3 separate regions of the Homo sapiens genome follow, and regions 1 and 3 are each linked to region 2. The links come from fine-mapping of genetic effects on gene expression. A gene starts in region 2. Each other region holds a variant in brackets. All regions are shown on one strand. Distances are from middle to middle.

Region 1 (8,183 bases), 120 kb after region 2:
TAAGGAAGAGTTATTCAAGAAAGGAAGGAAAACAATCAAGCTATTCTACACTGTGTGAAAGTGAGGGTGAGCTGAGCCCTTCCAGGGGCTGACGCTGTGGCCCCTTCCTTTACTTTGAAATGCTTCCTTTCTGCTTCAACTGGTTTAACCAAATAACAGAACCCTGTTAGGCTGCAGGCCTACCCCTAAATCAAATGACGATTTGAACTCCTGAAGGTGAAGGAGCCCCTAAATCCCAGCTCCCCCACGCTGGCCCCAAGTGACCCAATACATGCATATATAGTCTCAGAAATAAGAATAGCTCATTTCAGAAGCTGGGGTCAGGTGTGGGGTTGGACAGAGGGTGAGCCAAAGGCTAGCCGGGGTGGAAGGTGAGGGGCAGGAAGATACCCCAGAAAGAGCTGCCGAAGAATGGTGAAGATTTGTGCAGAGACTCTTATAGGCTTGAGGAGGTCAGACAACAGGCTGCTCTGTTTGTCTTGTAGGTAGGGGCAGAAAGGCAAATAGAAGGAAAGAATCCAGAGCTGATCTGCCCCACCCTCTGAGTTCCATATTGAGCCTTTGTAATCCAATAGTAAGATTCTCCCTGAGGCAACAGACTCTTATGTCTCCCCGCTTTCACAGCTACAGGGATTTCATACTTTAAACTCTGCACATGGAGGGAAAATAACAGGAAGGACATGCGCGGTGAGCTCTGTGACCTTGGGTCTCTTGTCGGTCTCAGTGCCTCTGCGCTGTTTCCTTGCACTTGACCTGGGTGTCCTGGCTGCTGCCAACTCCGGAGCCAGCTCTTGCCTCGGCTCACCAGCTTCTCCCCGCACCCCCTGGCTGCACTTTCTCTTTTTGATCTCTATGCTAACAACAGCCCAGGCAAGTCAGGAGTACCACGGGGCCTGCCCAGGCCCTTCTTCTGGATCTGGAGCAGGAGGGAGGAAGAGGCAGGAGCCCAGCATGTGTGAGGGGTGAAGCCAGAGGAGAACACTGGGAGTGCCCCCCGACTTGCTCCGTGAGGGCCTCTGCCGGGTCTGAAGGGCTGCTCAGGAAAACATGCACCTGAGCCAGTGGCCCTGGGGCTCTCAGCCTGCCTGGGAGCTGGGAGCCGGGAGCCACTGTAGTTTGGTTTTTGTGTGGGAGTTGCCTTTTATTTTTACCTGTGTATTTATTCATCTGGATTGTATGATAACTCTAAGAGGACAGGTCTAGTCTTCACCACTGATACAGTTTGGCTGTGTCCCTACCCAAATCTCATCTTGAATTGTAGCTCCCATAATCCCCACATGTTGTGAGAGGGACCTGGTGGGAGGTAATTGAATCATGGGGACGGTTACCCCCATGCTGCTGTTCCTGTGATAGTGAGTGAGTTCTCATGAGATCTGATGGTTTTTAAGGGCTTTTTTCCCCCCTTTTGCTTGGCACTTCTTGCTACCACCATGTGAAGAAGGACATGTTTGCTTCCCTTTCTGCCATGACTGTTAAGTTTCTGGAGGCCTCCCGAGCCCTGCTGAACTACGAGTCAATTAAACCTCTTTTCTTTATAAATTACCCAGTCTTGGGTATGTCTTTATTAGCAGCATGAGAATGGACTAATACAAACACTATCAGCAAGAAGTGTCATAATGGCACTGCCAAGGGGAGGTGCCCAGTGAGGCTTTCTTCAAATGAAAAGACAATATAAGCTTCAAGAGGGTGAGGTGGAGGGGTTTGCTGTTTTATTTATTGCTGTAACCTCTAGTCTGGGGGTGGGGATCCACTGTGCTATGTTAGAAGCATGATAAGGGAAAGAGAATCACCATCTTTACTGTTCCCATAGGTGTAAAAACCACTTACAGTTCCTTTGTCAGGAGTATTGGAGACCTATGTGCTTGTCACATAGTAGGTACTAAGTAAATATATACTTTTTATTGAATTAAGTAAGCATTTACCCTGATATAGGCTAGAAGCCTTTTTAAAAGGTTATGACCTGGAGAAAGTCATGGCAAAATTTTTGCAGAGCCCAAATTCCAGATCACTCCATCCATTTAACATTTACTGAGTGCCTACTATATGCTGGGCACAATAATAGATGTTTGGGATACAAAAATGAATCAGATATGAACCTGTCTTCAAGAGGGCCACAGGAGGTTTTTTAACTAAGGGGAAAAAAAGCATTGCAGGAGTTGGGCAGAATCAGAGAGGTTGTTTAGAGAAGTGGATAAAAGCATGGGTCCTGGCCTCAGGCAGATGAAGTTTTAAATATTTATCTAAGCCTAAATTTTCTTATCTGTAATGAAGGATAATCATCATTTCTGTTTATTGTAAAGGTTGTTGTGAGAATTAAATGAGCTAATGCATGAGGCTCACTTTGCACACGGCATGGCTTGCACTAAACACAGTAAACACAAAGGGTCCTGATATGGTTTGGCTCTGTTTCTCCACCCAAATCTCATCTTGAATTGTAATCCTCACATGTCGAGGGAGGGACCTGTAATCCCCATGTGTCAAGGGAGGATGATGATTGGATCTTGGGGGTGGTTCCCCCATGCTGTTCTTGTGAGTTCTCACGAGTTCTGATGGTTTTATAAGTGATTGGAAGTTCCTCCTTCACTCTTCTCTGTCCTACCACCTTGTGAAGAAGGTACCTGCTTCCCCTTCCACCATGATTGTAAGTTTCCTGAGGCCTCCCCAGCCATGTGGAACTGTGAGTCAATTAAACCTTTTTCCTTTATAAATTACCCAGTCTCGGCTGGGCAAGGTGGCTCACACCTATAATCCCAGCACTTTGGGAGGCCAAGGTGGGTGGATCACCTGAGGTCAGGAGCAACATGGTGAAACCCTGTCTCTACTAAAAATACAAAAATTAGCCAGGTGTGGTGGCTCATGCCTGTAATCCCAGCTAATTGGGAGGCTGAGGCAGGAGAATAGCTTGAACCCAGGAGGTGGAGGTTGCAGTGAGCCAAGATTGCACCATCGCACTCCAGCCTGGGCAACAAGAGCAAAACTCCATCTCAACAAACAAACAAACAAACAAAAATTACTCAGTCTTGGGCAGTTCTTTAGAGCAGTATGAGAACAGATTAATACAAGTCCCATAGAAAGAGCAGTGTGTTTCACATGGGGAGGCAGTGGTCACAAAAGACTCCTCAGTGGGGGACTCAAGCGAAGTCTCCAAGGATGAGTGGAGGTTCAAGTAGGCAGAGAGGAGGGTGTGTTAGATGGGACGATGTCGAGGAGAACGATACACAGTTCTTCTAGGTCCAGCAGATGAAGGAGCCCCAGGAAGCCACTGGGGGAGGGCTCAGTGCAGAAGCTGCCATGACTACTCCCTACCCAACACACAGCCTTTGGCAGTTTCCGCTCCCCTCCATGGGATCTCTGTAGTGTCACCTATGCATTTAGAGCACCCTGAACCACCACACTGACCCCTAGGATGTGCTTCAGCTACATCCCCAAGCACATGGAAGATATGCACACAGCAATGGGGTGACCATTTGTGAGTTGTCAGACTTCAGCAGGGCGGGGCCAAACACCACCTGAAACTGCCTTGGTGCCAGGCTCTAAGCATTTCACCTATATTAACTCCTTTAACCCTCACAATGAGCCAAGAAGGTAGGTACTATTATTTGTCCCATTTTATAATTGGGAAAACAAAGGCACAGAGAGGTGATGCACTTTGCTTGAGGTCACATAGCTAGGAAATGGTGGAGGAAGGCTTAAAGACAAGGCAGTCTAGTCCAGAGGTGGGGCTTCTAGCCACCATCCTATGCTGAAAGCATGATAAGGGGTAGAGAATCACAGTCTTTACTGTTTCTATGGGTGTAAATACCACTTCAAGTTGCCTTTTGAGGAGAGTTGGAGACCTATGTACAGCTCACTGAAAATCTAAAGACTATCTGCACACTCTTCCCAGAAAACACAAGGTTGCAAATGTAATTCTAGTGGGTTGTGGGTCCCCTGAAGACTATCTGTGGACGCTACAGGCCTGTGAACTTGAGGTTAATGGGTGTGAGATTTCCAGTGTGGCCTGGAGACAGGGGTGGGGGAGGGAAGTGCGTTTGCTGGAGAGTGCCAAGCAGGGGGCAGACTGGTTCTGAGGCCATGGCCAGGCCCAGCTGAG[C/T]GCAGATGATGTGCTAGCCAGGCTGGCCGTGACTGCGTGCTGCCCAGCTCACTGCTTAGCTCTTTGGAGATGAAAGTGCTCGCCTCAAACTCTGAATCATCCCTTGCTATTTCTTTACATATTTTTGCAAGAAGGAAGTCTTTATTTGGAATGATTCACGAACATCTTATAAATCAAGAGATACACAAAACAGACTTCAAGGAGCTATAGAAACCTACAGAGACACAGAAGCTATAAAAACAAACTGTTTCCAAGGGCCCTGTGCTGTGGCAAAGCATGTCTCACATGCAGGGAAAAGAAAATTAAAATCAACCCTGTAAGAGATAGATTAGAAATCTAGTTAATATAATGCACAGCTATTTTCTTTTTTAATAAAGGGAGTCAAGGTAATACATACACATGATTAAAAAGTAAGAAATTTGGCTGGGGGCGGTGGCTCAGGTCTGTAATCCCAGCACTTTGGGAGGCCAAGGCGGGTGGATCACCTGAGGTCAGGAGTTTGAGACCAGCCTGACCCACATGGAGAAACCCCATCTCTACTAAAAATACCAAAAATTAGCTGGGCGTGGTGGGCGCCTGTAATCCCAGCTACTTGGGAGGCTGAGGTAGGAGAATCGCTTGAACCCAGCGGGTGGAGGTTGTGGTGAGCCGAGATCATGCCATTGCACTCCAGCCTGGGCAACAAGAGTGAAACTCCGTCTCAAAAAAAAAGAAAAAGGTAAGAAATTTGGAAAGTCCAGCAATAAAATCCAACAGCTGCATCTCTCCCCAGCTGAAGTCCCAAACTCTAAACGTAACTACTTTTACTTTTTCTGCTTTTGCTGCTTCTGGGAGCTACCTTTTTCCCTCTAAATAATATGCTTACCTTCTGTTGTTCTGCTCCGACAGACTAGGATTTAGATATGTCACCACCCTGTGACCCCACCATTTCTTTAGAGCTAAATTCCTATTTTTCACTCTATTGCATTGGTTAAGAATGTAACTTTGAAATGCAGTTGGCCCTCTGTACCTGTGTGTCCTGAATTCTTGGGCTCAATCAATCACAGATCAAAAGCATTTGAGAAAAAAAATGACATCTGTACTGAACATGTACAGACTTCTTGTCATTATCCCCTAAACAACAGAGTATAACAACTATTTACATAGCATTTACATTGTATTAGGTATCATAAGTAACCTAGAGATGATTTATATGGGAGGATTTATGATTTATAGTGGAGGATTGCATGGGTTATATGCAAATACTACACCATTTATATCAGGGACTTGAGTATCTGCAGATTTTGGTGGAGGGTCCTGGAACCAATCCCCCATGGGTACCGAAGAACAACTGTATATATACTTAAGTCTCTATCTCTCATTCATTCCACTTTTGCGAATCTGTCTTGTTTCCCTACTGTACAGATGAGAAAAGGAGGTTTGGAAAGATCATCCCTTGCCCAAGACCACATAGTTGGTAAATGGTAGAGCTGGATACAAGCCCAGGTCAGCCCCTACCATCCCCAGACTACAACTACTGTGGTCCCCGAGACATTTTTGCCTGACACCTATCCCTGAAGGGGTCAGCTGCTATTTTTACACCTGTTACTATGCAGAAAGAGAAGTCTCCCCCAGGACTCAGCTCTGCTGTGGATACCACATTAGCAGGTGGAAGAGGGGGGTTTACAGAATGGATTGCAGAGGACAGCAGTTCAGTCCTGGAAGTCTTGGACCCATTTGAATTCCGTCATTCTCTTGTTGCCAGAAGCAGGATTAAGAGTTACTCCAGGTTATTTTAAACCAATAAAGGTTGTCAGGTGGCAGTCTGCTCAGAGGTTCCCTGTTCAGCACTGTCACTCAATAGTAGCAAAAGACAACAAAGGTGTGGAAGTGAGTAGCTCTTTGCCTAGTGTCCTGCCCCAAGTCTGGAAAGACAGTAGAGGTCTCACTGGTGTCACCCTCACTGGGAGTCTCCCTCCTCTATGGAATGGTGGAAGACTGTTCTCATCACTCTTTGATAATTTAAATCCCAGATCAGACCTGGGTACAGCTGATAATAATTGTTTCTCAAGCTTTTTCAGTTGATCTACTAGTAGATCTGAATACAGAGCCCAACCTGTAATCCCAGCACTTTGGGAGGCTGAGGTGGATGGATCACTTGAACTCAGGAGTTTGAGACCAACCTGAGCAATGTGGCAAAACCCTGACTCCACTAAAAATACAAAAATTAACTGGGCATGGTGGCATGCACCTGTAGTCTCAGCTACTCAGGAGGCTGAGGCAGGAGGATCACCTGAACGTGGGAGGTCAAGGTTGCAGTGAGCTGTGATCCTGTCATTGCACTCCAGCCTGGGTGACAGAGTAAGACCTCATCTCAAAAAAGAATGCAGAACTCAAGGCCCATGGCAGCATCTATGTAGTGATGGGCTGGTATATTTTTTTTTTTTTTTGAGACGGAGTCTTGCTCTTGTTGCTCAGACTAGAGTACAATGGCACAATCTCAGCTCACCGCAACCTCTGCCTCTTGGGTTCAAGTTATTCTATGGCCTTAGCCTCCCAAGTAGTTGGGATTACAGACATGTGCCACCACGCCTGGCTAATTTTGTATTTTTAGTAGAGATGGGGTTTCTCCATGTTGGTCAGGCTGGTCTGAACTCCTGACCTCAGGTGATCCGCCCACCTTGGCCTCCCAAAGTGCTGGGATTACAGGCATGAGCCACTGCGCCCAGCCTATGCTAGTAAATTTTTAACAACTGGCTCTCCTTGAGGTGGGGGCTGATATGTAGCATTTACCAATTTCCATAGTGTAAATACTCCCACTATAGTTGATTTTGAGCTACCTGAATTTACTGAACATGAAATTGGGAAGAAACACACAGTAACAATTCATTACAAAGTATTTCCATCATACAAATGTAACAGATATAATAACCCAGAAAACATAATAGTAAAATATAAGAAAATAATTAGAAAATGATGATTTTTGAGTATTCAATACTTTTTAAAAATTTTGGTCATATTTATAATTTGATCTTTAATAATGGCCGTGTTTAACTGGCTCACAAAATTCCTGAAAATTTAACAGCCAGCTCTTGGGAGCTGGTACAAACCCACGTCAGCATGCCACTGCTCTTGTGGCCAGCTTAGGAATTTGCCACTGGAACTATGGCAACGAGTCAGGAAGCTGGTATCAATGAGAAGAAAGTGGCCAGTCTAGAAATCATAAAATGCCCAGGAGGATGGGTTCTGGTCACACCGAGAGAGCAGGCCAGGATAGGCTATATCTCTGAGATTCGAATACAGCTGGAATTTTATTCAGTGTACTCAGATGTGCAAAAAAGGACAGGCTTCTTTGTGATTATTCTTATCTTCCTCTAAGGCTTCTATTGCCTCTGGTGGGGGCAGAGGACTTCACTTGTCTATGAAAGGTAACTCAGGAGAACTAATTTTCTTTCCATTTAGTACAGTCTCTTCCAGATGATCTCGGCCCCTCTTGAATAATGGTCTAGTCTTTCCAATCTCTCCCCACCCCCTTGCTTGTTTAGCAAAGCTGGTGCGATATTTGCTAACACTGCCGTAATAAAGTGCCACAGATGGAATGGTTTACACAATAGGAATTTATTGTCTCTCACTTCTGGAGGCTGGAAATCTGAGTTTAAGGTGTTGGCAGGGTTGGTCCCTTCTGAGGGAAGGATCTGTCCCAGGCCTTTGTCCTTGGCTTGTAGCTGGCTGTCTTCCTCCTGTGTCTCTTCACATGGTGTCCTTCCTGTGTGCATCTGTCTCTGACTTCCCTTTTTTTTTTTTTTTTTTTTTTTTTTTTGAGACAGAGTCTCGCTCTGTCGCCCAGGCCGGACTGCGGACTGCAGTGGCGCAATCTCGGCTCACAGCAAGCTCCGCTTCCCGGGTTCACGCCATTCTCCTGCCTCAGCCTCCCGAGTAGCTGGGACTACAGGCGCCCGCCACCGCGCCCGGCTAATTTTTTGTATTTTTAGTAGAGACGGGGTTTCACCTTGTTAGCCAGGATGGTCTCGATCTCCTGACCTCATGATCCACCCGCCTCGGCCTCCCAAAGTGCTGGGATTACAGGCGTGAGCCACCGCGCCCGGCCGAC
Region 2 (8,183 bases):
GAAAGAAAATTCCTGCTAGCAAAGGGAAAGCAGAACGGTAAATAAATGCCTATAATCCCAGCACTTTAGGAGGCCGAGGAGGGTGGATCACCTGAGGTCAGAGTTCAAGACCAGCCTGGCCAATATGGTGAAACCGTCTCTACTAAAAATACAAAAATTAGTTGGGCGTGGTGGCAGACGTCTGTAATCCCAGCTACTTGGGAGGCTGAGGCAGAAGAATTGCCAATAAGGGGGAAAAACTCAAATGTCCATGGATAGTCAAATGGATAAAGAAAACATGGACCAGGCACAGTGGCTCACACCTATAATCCCAGCACTTTGGGAGGCCAAGGTGGGCGGATCACTTGAGGTCAGGAGTTCAAGACCCGCCTGGCCAACATGGCGAAACCCTGTCTCTACTAAAAATACAAAAATTAGCCAGGTGTGGTGGCAGGCGCCTGTAATCCCAGCTACTCGGGAGGCTGAAGCCAGAGAATCGCTTGAATGCAGGAGGCGGAGGCTGCAGTGAGCTGAAATTACACCACTGCACTCCAGCCTGGGTGACAGAGGTAGACTCTGTCTCAAAAAACAAACAAACAAAAAAAACCCCAGAAGTATAAAAAAATTTAATCAATAATCCTGAAACTGATGTTTGTTACAAACACTTTCTTCTTCCTCCTCTATCCCTAAGCAGGTTCAAGTAGCAATATCTTTCCTTTTTAGGGAGAATACTATTCTGGTTATTTTCAAAACCTATTATTATAATAAATACTATATGCGAGGCCTTGTGCTAAGTGCTCTATATACACTATCTCTTAAAATCGTCACTGTGATGACTAATGTATTATTTTCATTTCCATTTTACAAATGAGGAAAAATCCTAAGCTTAGGACACACAATCAGCAAATGGTATAAAGTGGAGATAAAAAGCCAGGTCTGTCTCCATAGCCTGTGCTAATAAACTGGAGCAATATTTTCTTAGCTTTCTCTTCTTAAAAGACTGAAGTTCACATGCTATTTGGAATAAATACACAGAAAAGGGGCACAGGAAGTGGTGCAGAAAGAAGCACTTTATAACTTATCAAGATAAGAGCACCTGCACTGCTTTTTTAAAACAAGGAAAAACCCTGCAATAATATAAAACCCCCAACTCTTTTCTGGCCCTGTTATTGCTAAAATGGACAAGTTGGTCAGGCACCACCTACGGACCATAGCAAATAAATCACTTTGGTTCAGTGGTGGGGAGGACATTATGCAACACTTCCCAGCACAGCCCTGGCCAGGATATTTTACGGCCAAGGCACCTCCTCCCCAGCTAGACAGCCTGGCTCCTTCACATTCCCCTCAGGAGATAGGGTGGAAGCTCACAGCTCCACTTTGTAAGGCATAGAGGGCAGCTGAAAGTCCTGCTTGGCCTCTCTGGGCAACCACAGGCGCCAATAAATCAGCCACAGGCGATTCTCTCATTCCCTTCCCGGCTGAAACAGGAGCAAGATATAATGCAAAACAGCACTGATTGGACTTGAGAGATAAGCGATCTAGGCTTAAATTCTACTGCGAATGACTGTATTACCACAGCCCAGGTAATGAGCCTGTTTCCTCAGGCTTGTAACATGAAGACAGTACCATCTCCTTTTTGGTAAAGACACAAAGTTCATCTACGAAAGCAGCTAGTATGATACTTGGCCCACTGCAAGTACTCAGTAAACAGCGGCCAACTTGAGCAGAATCCATCTCTACTACATGCAAATAAGACATTCAAGGTAGGACTGGACAAAAAAGGTGTTAGCAGGTTACGTGGGTTCCTTTCTGTTTTCTTCCTGACCACACCTTGATATTTCACTGACTGCCAGCTCTCAGAATTAATCTGTTCCATGTCATATCCCATCAGTGTTCTGTTCCCTATTAAGGAGTTGATGTCCGATAACGGATTCACGATTTACCCTTAACTAAAATATATCCAGATTGTTAAAGAAGACTTTGATGCCTTAACATAAGGAAGCAACCAATGCTGCAAATAATAGAGAACAGCAATGAAACTTTCAGGGGTGGCTGGGGGGTGTAGGCTTTTAGTTCCAAAAATACACCATAGGCGGCCTACCTCACCTAGAAATACCATCAAACCCACACAGTGGCCATGCCTGACTTCTCCATAACCTGAATCAAGCCAAGTATATATAATGACCTCCGCCGGATACATTCTCTACAGGTGAGTGGGGTAAACTGGCACTGCGGTCCTGGCATGGTGGAGAGTGCAATCACCAAGGTGTCTGGAGCCTTGGAGTCTTAGCTATCAAGAGGTGTAGCTAGCTCCAGCTACATCACGCTCTTCAGGCCTGGTGTCTTCTCTGTAAAACGAGAGGGATGAAACAGATTTTCTATAAGGCACCTCTCGGCTCTAAAATTTAAGATTCCAAAGTGTACTTTACATACATGACAGAATCTTGTGAGAGGATCAACAGCTCTGCCAGGACTTGAGTCTCAAGAGAAAGAATGCCAAATTTAATCCCTTGGGGTGATGCGGGCGCTAACTGTTGAAACATGCTAGGTGCCGTCAGGTTCCAGGTACTACGTTGTGCTATGCGCTGCCTCCGCAACTGGTAACAACTGATTACTCCAAATACTGAGTGCCAGAGAAGACGGTGATAAGATGGGTCAAGCTTCAAAAAGAAAAACCGGATATGCTTAGAACAAGATAAACATAATTTGAAGATAGAAAAGGGGGGGATGTCTTCTTGCCCTAGAAACGAGGTAATCACAAGCTGGGAGTGGAAACAGTAGCCGCAGCGTCCTCCCAGCATCTGGAAAGTCGCCCGCTCGTAAGAGGGGTCGGCGCTACCCGAGGGAGGCCGCAGGCCTACTGGGGTTTCCTGCTGGGGGTCGCACCCGGACCCGCGGCCGGGACGGCTCTGCACCTTCGCGGCACCCCGTGTGCCACCCTGAATCAGGCCCCGGCAGCCGCTCCTACGAGCAGCAAAGGGTGGTTCTGGGTATTGTCGGCCCAGCGCTCACTCGCGGATGTATTTTCCTCCTGTGCCCTGCCTGACATCTCAATCGGACCAAAAACACCCCTCTCCCCAGCTACTTGCATCTGTCCCGCGACTGGTGCAGCTGCAGGCCGCCGCCCTGGGTGGCTCGCGGCAGGAGGGACTGAGCCCGGGGCAGCCCACAGGGGCAGGACCGCGTCGCTTACCCAGATGCCGCCGCGGCGGCAGGCCGACTCCTCCGTGCAGGAGGGGCGGGCTCCCAAGCCGCGCACTGCAAGCAGTGGCGCCGGCTCACGCACCCCTCGGCCGCCTCTCGCGCGGCTTCCCGCGCCGGCAGCCCGCGATGGCCCCACGTGACCGCGTGTCTGGTAGCAGGGGAAAGAGGGGCGCCAGGGCCGGGGTGTGCGTGCGTGCGTGCGTGCGTACGTGCGCGCCCTCCCGCCCGCCCGCCTCAGTGGCCGGGCGGGGGTCGGCCCGCGCTCTGAGTGCCGCCGCCACAGTTCGCAGTTGTGACTCTGTAGGCGGAAGCATAGGGACAAGCCTGAGCGTCACAGGCTCCCCACAAACAACCGCGTGACCCGGGGACTTTCCCCAGGGTGTGCAAAAGCACAGGCACCCCCTCAGTTCTGGGGTGAAGGTGGGGGTGGGGAAGGATGCGCCCGCGTGTTCGCTGGGGAAGGGATGAGGGCGCGGGGCCAGGGAGGCCGAGCCGCGGGAGCCTGGGTGGAGAGGCGGACTGGGCGAGGTGGGGCATGGCGGGGGAAGTGACTCAGGGCCAGAGGCAGCAGGCCCACGGAAGGTGGGGTCGGGGGGGCGCGGGGACTGGGCGACCCTGAACCGACGGGGCAGGGCGAGGTTGCCGGAGCACTCGAGGCGGACCGCGAGTGACGGCCCAGCTGCTGGGCCCAACGGGCAGGGGTCTGACATCTGGACGGAGTGGGAAAGCAGCCTCGCATCCTGCCCTGGGGAGTCGGGAGGAGCCCAGTTCCATCCAGCTGTGCAAACAGGAGGAGGAGGAGGTCCCAAGCCTACCCTTGAGAGGGGCAAGAGGGGTGGTCAAGCCGCCGCCGCCGCGACGGCCCCCGCGGTGCGGGTTGCGCCAGCCTCCTCGGAGCTCGACGCAGAAACTTGTTGCAACAAACAGGCGACCGCGGGTGCCCCTAGCAGCCAGCGGCAGAGTGGGTGGGCGGGCGAGAGGGAGGGGAAGGCTGGCGGACGCCGCAGCGAACTGGTGGGCAGACCCGGAGTCGCCGCGTAAGCGGGGCCGGCTCAGTGCGGTGCGGCAGGCGCGGCTGTGCGGCAGCGGAAGTCCTTTGTTGCAGCACAGTCCCTGGCAGAGCCAGAGCCTCTCCGCGCAGCCCAGCCCGAGCGCCGAGCGCCGCGCGCCGCCGCCACTGCAGCTCGCGGCCCCTTCGCCTTCGCCCGCCTTTCCCGCGGCTGATTTGCCTTAAACTCCCTAAAATCTCCGCAGCTCTGGTTCCTGTTGCGGCCGGTAAGTATTTGCCAGTTGTGGGGCTATTTGCGCAACTTTGGCCCAGGCCGGAGGGCGACGGGCCGCGGGCCTGGCGGAGTGCGGGGCCGGAGGGGCGCCGATCCGTGCGGGGAGCCGGAGCGCGGCGGACGCGCTGCGAGGACCCGGTGACGGGCGGCTGCCAGGCCGCCTGCTTGTTGCCGGCGCGTCAGGTCCCGGGCGTGCGGCCTCCCTGAGTCGGAGGCGAAGCCCCTACGGAGACTAGTTCCCAAATTAGTTACCTTCTTTTCTTTCTTTCTCTGCCTTTATTTTTTTCGAGGGGGGAGGGGAGGTGTAGACGGGAGGCGGGAGAACCCGGTTGATTGACGTGCCTAGAGCCCGCTTCTCTCAACTTACAGCTGCGGCTCGGCGGCGGGTGGGAGGGGAAGTGTCCCGGAGCCCGAGGCTGCAGACTTGGGCGCGCTCCGAGGGAGGAGGCGTAAGATCCGTGCAAATTCTTGTTACGCTGTTTCCCACCCCCTCTCGCCGGCACACACGCTTTTTGTTCAGTAAAAAGTGGAAGGTCTGAGTTTGGGAATTTTAAGTGGAAAAGATCTGTTTCTTGGGAAGGGAGTGCTTTCGCTTGCAGCGGTGGGCGCTTACTAGAAGTTCGGTAAATGTGTTGGATGCAGATCGGGAGTCGTTACTACTAAAGTATGTAGGCAGGGTCTGAGCTCAGCCACCCCACCCAGTCTCCCTTTCTACCTAAGCAACGCGTGTACATGATCTGAAGGGTTGACATGACATTTTCTAAATTGGGCGAATCAGGAAGAGGTTGATGAAAATCCTTGACGTTTTCTGGGGATAGGACATTTGTGTGTGATAACGTTCTTAAGTCGAATTTCAGTGTGGCAGTGCACGCAGATTCTTCATTGGTGTTAGTGTATTTCCATACGGTATGTATCAGTACAAGAAATAGTGTTCCCTTTGACACTCGAACCCAAGGAGTGGTCCGAGGCTTTTTGAGGCAACGTAGGATCAATGTCTCTGAAGCAGATTTGGTGAAGGATGCAGGTCTCATAATTTACAGAGCAATCACAGCCTTCTTTGAAACGGAGAAATTAGATTCTATGAAATTTTGTCAGTGCAGATAGATATGATGTGGAGAAACGGGGAAAATTGAGTACAAAAAGATGAGGCTTGAATGATGGCTGGCCAACATTTGCTCAGAACCTCAAAACTTTGCTTTTGAATCACTTGCTGGATATCTAATAAAGTCTCAATAATAACTGGATGACTTTGGGAGCTAGAAAGGGGGTTCCTCCTCTTAAAGAAACAGGAAACTGGGCCGGGCGCAGTGGCTCACGCCTGTAATCCCAACACTTTGGGAGGCCGAGGCGGGTGGATCACCCGAGGTCAGGAGTTCGAGACCAGCCTGGCCAACATGGCGAAACCCCATCTCTACTAAAAGTACAAAAATTAGCCTGGCGTGGTGGCGGGCGCCTGTAATCCCAGCTACTCAGGAGGCTGAGGCAGGAGAATCGCTTGAACCTGGGAGGCGGAGGTTGCAGTGAGCCGAAATGGCGCCACTGCACTCCAGCCTGGGCAACAAGAGCGAGACTCTGTCTCAAAAAAACAAACAACAACAACAACAAAAACAGGAAACTGAAGCATAGTAGAGGTGAAATGCTTTTCCAAAGGTTAATAAACATAACGTCTACAGTAGAGTCTTCAGTTAACCTCTTACATTCGTTTTATGAGCAAGCAGGCTTTCTCCATTAATACCACATTTTCATGGTATTGAATAACTCAGGTTGAACAGTCTTTCCTGAAGCCTTTCTATTCTTCCCACTCCTAATACGATGGCCTACTTTTTTGGGGTTTTTGTGGGGAAGGGACTGGTGTATCATTGTCAGAGAAAAGAGAAACCATATTTAACCAGGGCCTTAGCAGGGCATGAGCACAGTCACAGCCACTTGCTCTTGACCTTGTGCTTTGATTTCAGTTTAACACTTCTAAATTTTTGTACTGCTTCCTCATTCTCCTCTTTTGCCAGGCTCTGGGGAAGATATAGTTCATCGACCTTTTTAAGAGTATCTCGTTTTCTTTGTAGCATCATTTCCCTTTCTAATGTGCAGGAGAAAAGAAGTACCTGCTTTCAGACTTGCCCTCTAGCCAGGAAAAGCACTAAGCCTTTGGTGCAAAGGAGAGGAAACTATTTGGTATAGAAATACAGAAAAATTTCCATAGATTTTTGTTAATAAGCTGCAATCTGTTGTCTTCCCAAAAAAAATGAGGTATATTTGAGAAACATCTTCTTGAGAGGTCACTTTGGTCTCTATAGAATGTTTTCTCCTGACATTTTCTTCTGTGCTAGTATCTCATGCTAAAATGGTGAAATTATTTTTTCTCATATTCTTATGTGAACCAAATTAAGGGTTACTCGTGTCTATTTTTTCTCAAAATGGAAATGTTTTTTATTATAAAATCCATGCTCTTTGAAAAATTCAGCCTGTATTGAAGTACATAAAATACAAAAATGAAAGTCATTTTGACTCCCACTCCCCAGAGATAATCACCATGTACAGTTAATTCCTTGTTTAAAACGAGAGAAGGCAACATTTGATCACAGCTGTGTGTGCCTCACTCTGCCTGGGGATGGCCTGTGGTGATTCATGGACTCATGTTCTCTGTTCACATTACTCAGGTTGGTAAGAATTGCCAGGTAGAGGAAAGGGGAGTGTTTTGCATTGGGCTGATTTAAAATTATTTGATTAACTGGGCTGCTATTTTAGGTTTGTCCTTATTAAATACTTACTGTATCATGGTGGGCTATTTTTCATACTTTGTTCATGTTAATGTTGTTGCCCAGCCTCTGATGGATTGATTTACAGCAGCCAAACACATGAAAACAAAAGCAAACCCTCACCTTTATAGAGAGTTTCATAATTTATAATTAGGAAGGAGTGGGTATACTTGCCATGAAGACCACTGCCAATATATCCCTGTGCTGATATGGGATGGGGTTCCTCTTGATCAGCACCAAAGATTGCATGCTGAACATATGGAAAGGAAATTGGACGAAAGAAGGGTCAATGACCGCTGTTTTCAGATGTGGCATGGAAGAGACTGATACTGGGGAGGAAGCGGCAGGGTCTCACTCCTTAGCCATGTGTATTTAAGAAGAATGAACTGTGAAGAAGTTGATGATGATCTAAAAACAGAGCCCCAAAATAGTACATAGAAAGTTAATTACAACATTGGTTATTTGAGAGTGTTGGGGACGTGGGTGGTTTTTATACTACTCTGTCTTTGAATTTAAAATAGTTTTCAAAATAAAATTTGAAGATTAAAGAATTAACCAGATTTTCTTTTGTCTATATGAGATGCATGCAGTCGTTTTTAGAGATGAGTTCCATCCCCACTTTGAATCTGAAGTATTAGAAGAGGCATGCTCTGGTGGACAGTGGGGAGTTAGCAGATGGAAGGGGATTTAGGGAAGGGACTGGACATTCTTCCTGCAAGATGGAGCAGTAAGAGAATGATGAGAGCTTTTAGATTCATGAAAAAGGTGACTCTAGGAGGCTTAGAATGTTCCAAAGGGGCACTTCAGCTAATAGTCATATTCAGAAGAGTGTTGTCTGGTTTACACAAACTGAAACTTAGGGCTTTGAATCAAGAGTCTCAGCTTCTACTTACAAGATAAGCAGTTTTGGGGAAGTCAGCCACTGAACCTGTTTCTTCATTTGCAAAATGAGGATAATAAA
Region 3 (8,183 bases), 180 kb before region 2:
AACATAAAGGTGGGAACAATAGACACTGGGGACTACCAGACATGGGAGAGAGGGGACATGGGATGCAAAATCACCTATTGGGTACTAAGCTCATTACCTGGTGACGTAACCCAAACCTCAGCATCACGCATTATGCCCATGTAACAAACCTGCACATGTACCCCTTAATCTATAATAAAAATAAAAATTATTATTATTATTATTTGAGACAGAGTTTTGCTCTTGTCACCCAGGCTGGAGTGCAATAGCATGATCTCAGCTCACTGCAACCTCCGCCTCCTGGGTTCAAGCCATTCTCCTGCCTCATGCTCCCGAGTAGCTGGGATTACAGGTACCCACCACCATGCCCAGCTAATTTTTGTATTTTTGGTAGAGACAGGGTTTTGCCATCTTGGCCAGGCTGGTCTCGAACTCCTGACCTCAGGTGATCCACCCACCTTGACCTCCCAAAGTGCTGGGATTACAGGCATGTGCCACTGCACCTGGCCTGAAATTATTTTTTTAAAGAAGAGGGATGCTTACTGGCTAAGTGCAATGACTCACACCTGTAATTTCAGCCCTTTGGGAGGCTGAGAAAGGAGGATAGCTTGATCCAGGGGTTTGAGACCAGTCTGGGTAACATAGTAAGACCTTATCTCCACAGAAAGGAAAAAAAAAAAAAAAAAAAGATCCTTATCTTCACTAGTAGTCAAGAAAATGTAAATTACAATAATAATGAGGTACCTTGTTTTTTGTTTCTTTTTTTACCCAACTAACAACAAAAAAGAATGACAGCATTCAATGCTAGCTGGATGTAAAGGAGAATGATTTACTCTTAAATGAACTGCTTCTATCCTTTTGCAAATAGTAATCTGACAATGGCTATTAGAATTTAAAATACGCACTGTGACCCTATCAGCTCATATTTGTCAATTAATCCCCTAGCAACAAAAGCACCAGTGTGGAAGGATATAAGTTGAAAGATACTTATTTTCACATTATTTGTAGTGACCAAAAGAAGGAAATAATTATATCATCCCTCAAAAGAGAAATGGTTGAATAAATTAAGATACATGCATACTATAGAATATTATACAGTTATTAAAGGAAGAGCTATATCTTTTAACTTAAGATACAACCATGAGGCACTACTAAGTAGAGGAAGTTGCAGAATATTTTTATTAGAATGATCTTAGTTTTGTGAAGACACCATTACCCTTTATATATGTTTACATATTTCCATAACTATGGGAATGGTTAACATTGGTTACTGAGGTGACATGGGCAGAGAGAAAATTATTATTTCCTTTAAACTGTTTAGCATAGCTTTAAGTGTTGGGGTAGGCACATGTTATTTTGTTTTTTGTTTGTTTTTTGAGACAGGGTCTCACTCTGTTGCCCAGGCTGGAGTGCAGTGGTGCAATCTTGGCTCACTGCAACCTCTGCCTCCCAGTTTCAAATGATTCTCCCACCTCAGCCTCCCAGGTAGCTGGGACCACAGGCATGTGCTACCGTGCCCAGGTAATTTTTGTGTTTTTAGTAGAGACAGAGCTTCACCATGTTGGCCAGGCTGGTCTTAAAACTCCTGACCTCGAGTGATCCCACCTCGGCCTCACAGAGTGTTGAGATTACAGGTGTGAGCCACCATGCCTGGCCAAGCACACGTTATTTTGTACAATCTTAAGAAAACTTAATAAAGGATTATTTTTATTTGCATGGATTAACCATTCAATGTATTATTTCCATACACATATTCAAAGGCAGAGGTGGAGGCTAGATGAGATGATATATTTATCTTTAAACTCTATATGGTCTACTGTTGACCTTACTTCATTAAGTCCTATTTTGTTTGTTTGTTTTGAGATGGAGTCTTGCTCTGTCGCCTAAGCTGGAGTGCAGTGGCACGATCTCAGCTCACTGCAACCTCCACTTCCCAGGTTCAATCGATTCTCCTGCTTCAACCTCCCAAGTAGTTGGGATTACAAATGTGAGCCACTACACCTGGCTAATTTTTGTGTTTTTAGTAGAGACAGGGTTTCTCCATGTTGGCCAGGCTGGTCTTGAACTCCCGACCTCAGGTGATCAGCCCACCTCAGCCTCCCAAAGTGCTGGGATTACAGGCGTGAGCCACTGCCCCCAGCCAGTCCTATATGTTTGTAAAATCTGTGGTTGTTCAATAAGTATTGAATAAATGAATGAATAAGCAAATCATTCAGTTTGTGAGTAAAAGAAATGAGTGCGGTAGCCAGACTTTTAAGATGACCACCAATGATCTGCACCGCGCCGCCTGGTACCCTTATAGTCTCGAACAACATTGTATCAGGTTGGTCTGTTTGACTGATAGAATATGGCAGAAGTGATGTTATGTAACTTACAAGAAGAGATTATAAAAGACACTAAACTTTCCATATTATATTGATGGTTTTATCTGTCAAATATGTACACAGTGAAAAAACTGAAGATATGGGAAAGGGCATGTTTTTTGATAAAATTAGAAGCATAACTCTAAGGATTTTTCCCCCTCACTTTTCCAATGTTAAGTGAAATATAAATAGTTTTTATCAGCTTTCTACACCAAATAAAGTTAAAGTTATTAATATTAGAATAATAAATAGTTAATTTCATTGCCCAAAATAACATCTATAATTCAGGAAAGTCTTTTTTCATAGTCTAATCTTTTAAAACATCATTAAAAGCAATTTTTCCTTCCAGGTATTTCAAGGATCTTTTGTTGTTCCCTATACTTTTCTTCAAGTTGGAATGATTCACAAACAGCTGTTCATAAAGATGATACAGCTGTTCCATTTGCTGAGTAAGCATCTGAATTTCCTGCTGAAGATCTTCTGTTCTCTATAGAAAAAGAAGGAAATACTTCCTGATAGTTAACAGTTACGTTTAGAGTGACATTGTGGGGACAATAAATTAGTAAATAGAGGCTAAAGGAAGACTATTAAGACTTGACATTTAAAAATTAATTTAAAAAGAAGTGGATCTGATACACAATAGTAAGACATTTTAGTTTGTAGAGTAATAAAGTCATAAAATAAGTTTTCAGAGATCAGAGGTTAAAAAATTATAGACTTCTGTTAATAGATGTAGCAGATGTCACTAGCATATTGAAACCTGATAGCCATATTCATTACATTCCACTGTTGATGGAGTGGAATTGCTGAGTCACAGGGTAGGATATATTCTGGTTTTAGGGATACACTTTGGTTTTAGGAGATATTGACAAATGCATTTCCAAATGGGTTGTACCAATTTAATCTCCTATCAGGAATGTAGGAGAATCCCGTTTCCTTGCCTAGCTCTGACATCATTTTAACCACATGCAAAATCCTCAATTATTTAACAAAAGAATGTAATACCTTCTGTTTCCAACCCACACATCATCCAAGATCTCCTGTCCTTTTATGCAGCTCTGGGATCTGAGTAAGCAAGTTTAGTTTCTGGACTTTTGTTGAGTAAAAGTAGGAAATAAGAGGAGAGAAAATTATTCATGAAATGATGAATTTGCATTAGAAAGAAGGTAGGAAAAAGAGGAAGGGAAGAGAAATTATGAGCAGCATAGACTGGATCTGGGAGAGTTTTTTAAGAGAATGGAGAGTTAGGCACAGGAGAAAAAGGTTTAGGATGTGATGTGAGAGATATAGTGAGAAAAGTTAAGAAAATGAAGGTGTTATTGTAAATTATGAATATTCCACCTTTTATTAAGAAAATTAGTTAAGGCAAATAATTAAGATTGGAATTACAGTTGACCCTTGAAGACCGATTTGAATTGCATGGGTCCACTGATAACGTGGATTTTCTTCTACTTCTGCTACCCCGGAGACAGCAAG[A/AC]CCAACCCCTCCTTTCCTTCCTCCTTCTCAGACTACTCAAAGTGAAGACGATGAGAATGAAGACCTTTATGATGATCCACTTCCACTTAATGATTAGTAAATATATTTTTTCTTCTTTATGATTTTCTTAATAACATTTTCTTTTCTCTAGCTTTACTGTAAGAATACAGTGTATAATACATACAACATACAAAATATGTGTTAGTCAACTGTTTATATTACTGGTAAGTCTTCCAGTCAACAACAGGTTATTAGTAGTTAAGTTTGGGAGGAGTCAACAATTATACACAGATTTTTTTTTTTTTTGCATGATGGCCATATCCCCTAACCCCAGATTATTAAAGGATTAACTGTACTGTCAACTAGTTTTGACAACTGAAATATTCTTTTATAAATGGAGCCAACACATAAATTGGATCATGTAGACCCTTGCTTTACATACAGATTACATTAAAAAGTGGTTATAGTCGAAGGAATTTGAAGAACACTTCCTCAGTACTATTTTACTTCCTCAGCAATATTTTACCCCCAACAGACTTCTATAAAATCTTCTCTTTTTATTCTTTTCTACTGACTACTCCTCAACCCTCCTTCACTCAATGAAGATTTGGGGCCTCACATTCTTCTTCTATACCAACTCATACCATAATTCAAGATTTCAGGGGTCACAGTAGATGATCGATCCAATAATACAGCTTTGTGATTCATGTGTGTACTTAATTCCAATGCCCTACACCTACACTCATTTATTATTTAATTATTTATTATTCTAATATTAATAACATTAACTTTTTTTGATGTAGAAAGTGGTTGTTAAAGCCAGATCATTCCAGCTCCCAAGAGTTGATTATTCATATCTCTTTCTAATTCTATGCTCAATGACATGTTGGTATCAAAAGTCAATGAATGCTCAAATTGGGTGCTTTTTCTCAAGAGCCAGTTTACCAGCACATGACTGCCTTTATACCCTACTTCAACCACCTACACCTAGATCCAAAAACAACCCTGGATTTTGTCATCAGCAGGAATTGCCCCATACCAGAAATATGAAACTCCGCTATCTTATTCTGTAACATGATCTCAGCTTTCAGCTTTCTCACAGCCCTATTACCCCTATACCTTTCTCTTCAGTATCACAGAGACCTTTAGGCCCCCCTTGCATTTTCTCTTAATATATCAGAAAGGCATAAAGGCTCCCAGTCAACCACGGTATAAAGGAACCATGGCTTCCTTCTACCCTCCCTTTGGGAGAGAACCAACAAACAACTCAACATTTCTCGATTACCTCCTAGAGTTAAACAAGATAACAAAAATTGTTTTTCTTCAAAAATCAATCAAAACTTATTCTCACCTTCATCATGAAAATATTCATGGTTCCTTGTCCTTTCATATTCATATGGGAGTGAATCTGTTGGCATCTACCAATTGATCTAGAATGGGTTTTTTTTGTTCCACCTTTTCTCTTTAAACCAGATATACCTTGTGTCAATAGACTGAAAGATATGAGTAGACTAAAGTAATTCAAACAATTTTCAAATGTCCATTCCAAAATTAAAAAGAAATGTCCCCTTTTAAAATATATATATAGTTGGCCAGGCACAGTGGCAAACGCCTGTAATCCCAGCACTTTGGGAGGCTGAGGCAGGTGAATCACCTGAGCTCAGGAATTCGAGACCAGCCTGGCCAACATGGTGAAACCCCATCTCTACTAAAAATACAAAATTAGGCCAGGCACAGTGGCTCACGCCTGTCATCCCAGCACTTTGGGAGGCCAAAGTGGGCAGATCACCTGATGTCAGGAGTTCGAGATCAGCCTGGCCAACATGGTGAAACCCCGTCTCTACTAAAACTACAAAAATTAGCCGGGTGTGGTGACGGGCTCCTGTAATCCCAGCTACTCGGGAGACTGAGGCAGGAGAATTGCTTGAACCCAGGAGGCGGAGGTTGCAGTGAGCCAAGATAATGCCACACACTCCAGCCTGGGCGACAGAGCAAGACCCCACCTCAAAAATACAAATACAAACACAAAAATTAGCTGGGTATGGTGGCATGTGCCCATAATTCCAGCTACTTCAGAGGCTGAGGGAGGAGAGTCACTTGAACCCAGGAGGCAGAGGTTGCAGTGAGCTGAGATCACACCACTGCACTCCAGCCTGGGCAACAGAGCAAGCCTCCATCTCAAAAAAATAAAAATAAATAAAAACAAAATATATGTATAGTCAAAATATATTTCTAAGGCCGGGCACAGTGGCTCAAGCCTATAATCCCAGCACTTTGGAAGGGCAAAGCGGGTGGATCTCCTGAGATCAGGAGTTTGAGACCAGCCTGGCTAACATGGTGAAACCTGTCTCTACTAAAAATACAAAAAAAAAAAAAAAAAAAAATTAGCCAGGCATAGTGGTGTGCACCTGTAGTCCCAGTTACTCAGGAGGCTGAGGCAGGAGAATCACTTGAACCTGGGAGGTGGAGGTTGCAGTGAGCCGAGATCACGCCACTGCACTCCAGCTTGGGTGACACAACGAGACTTCGTCTCAAAAAAATAAATAAATAATGAAACCCATCTCTACTAAAAACACAAAAATTAGCTGGGTGTGGTGTTGCACACCTGTAGTCCCAGGTACTCAGGAGGCCAAGACAGGAGAATCACTTGAACCTGGGAGGCAGAGGTTGCAGTGAGCTGAAATTGCACCACTGCACTCCAGCATGGGCGACAGAGCAAGACCCTGTCTCAAAAAAAAAAAAAGATTTCTAATGAAAACAGCTGTTCAGTAATTCCAATAGTCCCAAGAGGGTGTCATTTCAGAAACCATCCTTTTTAAGAAGACATTTGGAGAGCAATATCTGCCTGGGTAGTAGGATAATATTATAAGGATTAGGACATCACACACGGTATCTCAGTCCATTTGTGTTGCTATAAGGGAATACTTGAGGCTGAGTAATTTATAAAGAAAAGAGGTTTATTTGGCTCACAGTTCTGCAGACTGTACTAGAAGCATGGCACCAACATCTGTTTTGGATGAGGGCCTCAGGAAGCTTCTACTCAAGGCAGACAGCAAAGGGAAGCTAATTTTTCCATTTTGTAGATGAGAAAACTGGGACAAGAAATATTTAGCAATTTGTCTAAACCTACAATATAAGAGGTAGATCCCAGATTGAAACATACACAGTCTGACTCTAAAGACTCTTTGTATTTCAAAGAAAGTAGCCCCTTGGCTCTGATATTAGTTGCAGATATTTTAAATTCTTATTTAAAAATAAAATTTAAATAAAATAAAGTAACCCCTTTAGTATTAGTTGTAGATATTTTAAAATATTATTTATATTGTAATTCTACTTTAAGTACGCCTACAATTATTGTAGGAGAAAAATGGAAGTAAATAAAGAAATTTGAGAAATTTGAAGGCAAATATTAAAGGTACTGGAGAGTGAACACTAAAGGATCAGAAAGATGCCTTATGATACTGTGTGTGTAGATCACATGGTGAAAGAGAAGGCAAGAGAGAGAGGAGGGGTAAGTACAAGGATCTTTACAACAACGAGATCTTGTGGGAACCAAGAGTGAGAACGAACTTACTCCCTCTAGAAGGGCACCACACCATTCATAAGGGATCTGCCTTAACAACCCAAACACTTCCCACCAGGCTCCACCTTCAACATTAGTGATCAAATTCCAACATGAGACTTGGCAAACAAACAGTATCCAAACCGTAGCACACAGACTAAAGCACTTCTACTACAACAATTCCTGAGTGGAATTCTTTAATTGGGATGTGAGAAGGGGGAAAGGAATTGGAAATAACTACAATAATTTGGGCCAGGCACTGTGGCTCATGCCTGTAATCTCAGCACTTTGGGAGGCCAAGGCAGATGGATCACTTGAGCTCAAGACCAGCCTGGGCAATGTCGTGAAACCCTGCCTCTATCAAAAAAAAAGAAAGAAAGAAAGAAAGAAGAAATTTGTATGTGAAAACTTGTATCATACATACAAACAGCTTAGATACATAAATGACTAATTACATATTTGGATCTTGCTTTGAATACTAATTGCTAGGGAATGATAACATCTCTTTATTCTAAGGCTAATTTAAAGTTTTTTATGTCCTTTTCTATCGTAGAATTGCAGCCAAAAGGATTGGTGAGCCTGAAGTCAAGTCAAGATAAACTACCCGGCTAGGCATGGTGGCTCACGCCTGTAATCCCAGCACTTTGGGAGGCCAAGGCGGGCAGATCACGTAATTTCAGGAGTTTGAGACCAGCCTGGCCAACATGGTGAAACCCCATCTCTACTAAAAATACAAAAATTAGCTGGGCGTGGTGGCAGGCGCCTGTAATCCCAGCTACTAGAGAGGCCAGGAGGTGGAGGTT

Alleles and levels. Alleles are on the strand shown, and positions count from the first base shown. SD is a standard deviation of normalised expression in the study named. Not every link is listed here.
For the expression in prefrontal cortex of the gene that starts at base 4,282 in region 2, allele AC in region 3 goes with a lower level than allele A (large effect, 1.1 SD a copy in CommonMind).

Evidence for each region.
Region 1: its variant is fine-mapped to the expression of ZBTB1 in aorta (GTEx, PIP 0.92).
Region 3: its variant is fine-mapped to the expression of ZBTB1 in prefrontal cortex (CommonMind, PIP 0.90).

Annotation. Positions count from the first base shown.
Region 1 is chr14:64,625,033-64,633,215 of GRCh38, forward strand. No RefSeq gene overlaps it. Among named protein-coding and RNA genes, the nearest start is that of PLEKHG3, 75 kb to the right of the region's middle. RefSeq lists an enhancer at 8,086-8,183. The variant C/T (reference allele first, on the strand shown) is at 4,094.
Region 2 is chr14:64,500,489-64,508,671 of GRCh38, forward strand. ZBTB1 (zinc finger and BTB domain containing 1) reads left to right here and starts at 4,282. Exons shown (of 2, transcript NM_001123329.2): 1 at 4,282-4,458. It overlaps ZBTB25 (zinc finger and BTB domain containing 25), which reads right to left and starts at 3,350. Exons shown (of 3, transcript NM_006977.5): 1 at 3,173-3,350. RefSeq lists enhancers at 2,482-2,601, 2,662-2,761, 3,532-3,621, 3,722-4,392 and silencers at 3,082-3,511, 4,112-4,371, 4,482-4,591.
Region 3 is chr14:64,321,871-64,330,053 of GRCh38, forward strand. It overlaps a transcript of ESR2 not described here. Among named protein-coding and RNA genes, the nearest start is that of ESR2, 32 kb to the left of the region's middle. The variant A/AC (reference allele first, on the strand shown) is at 3,819.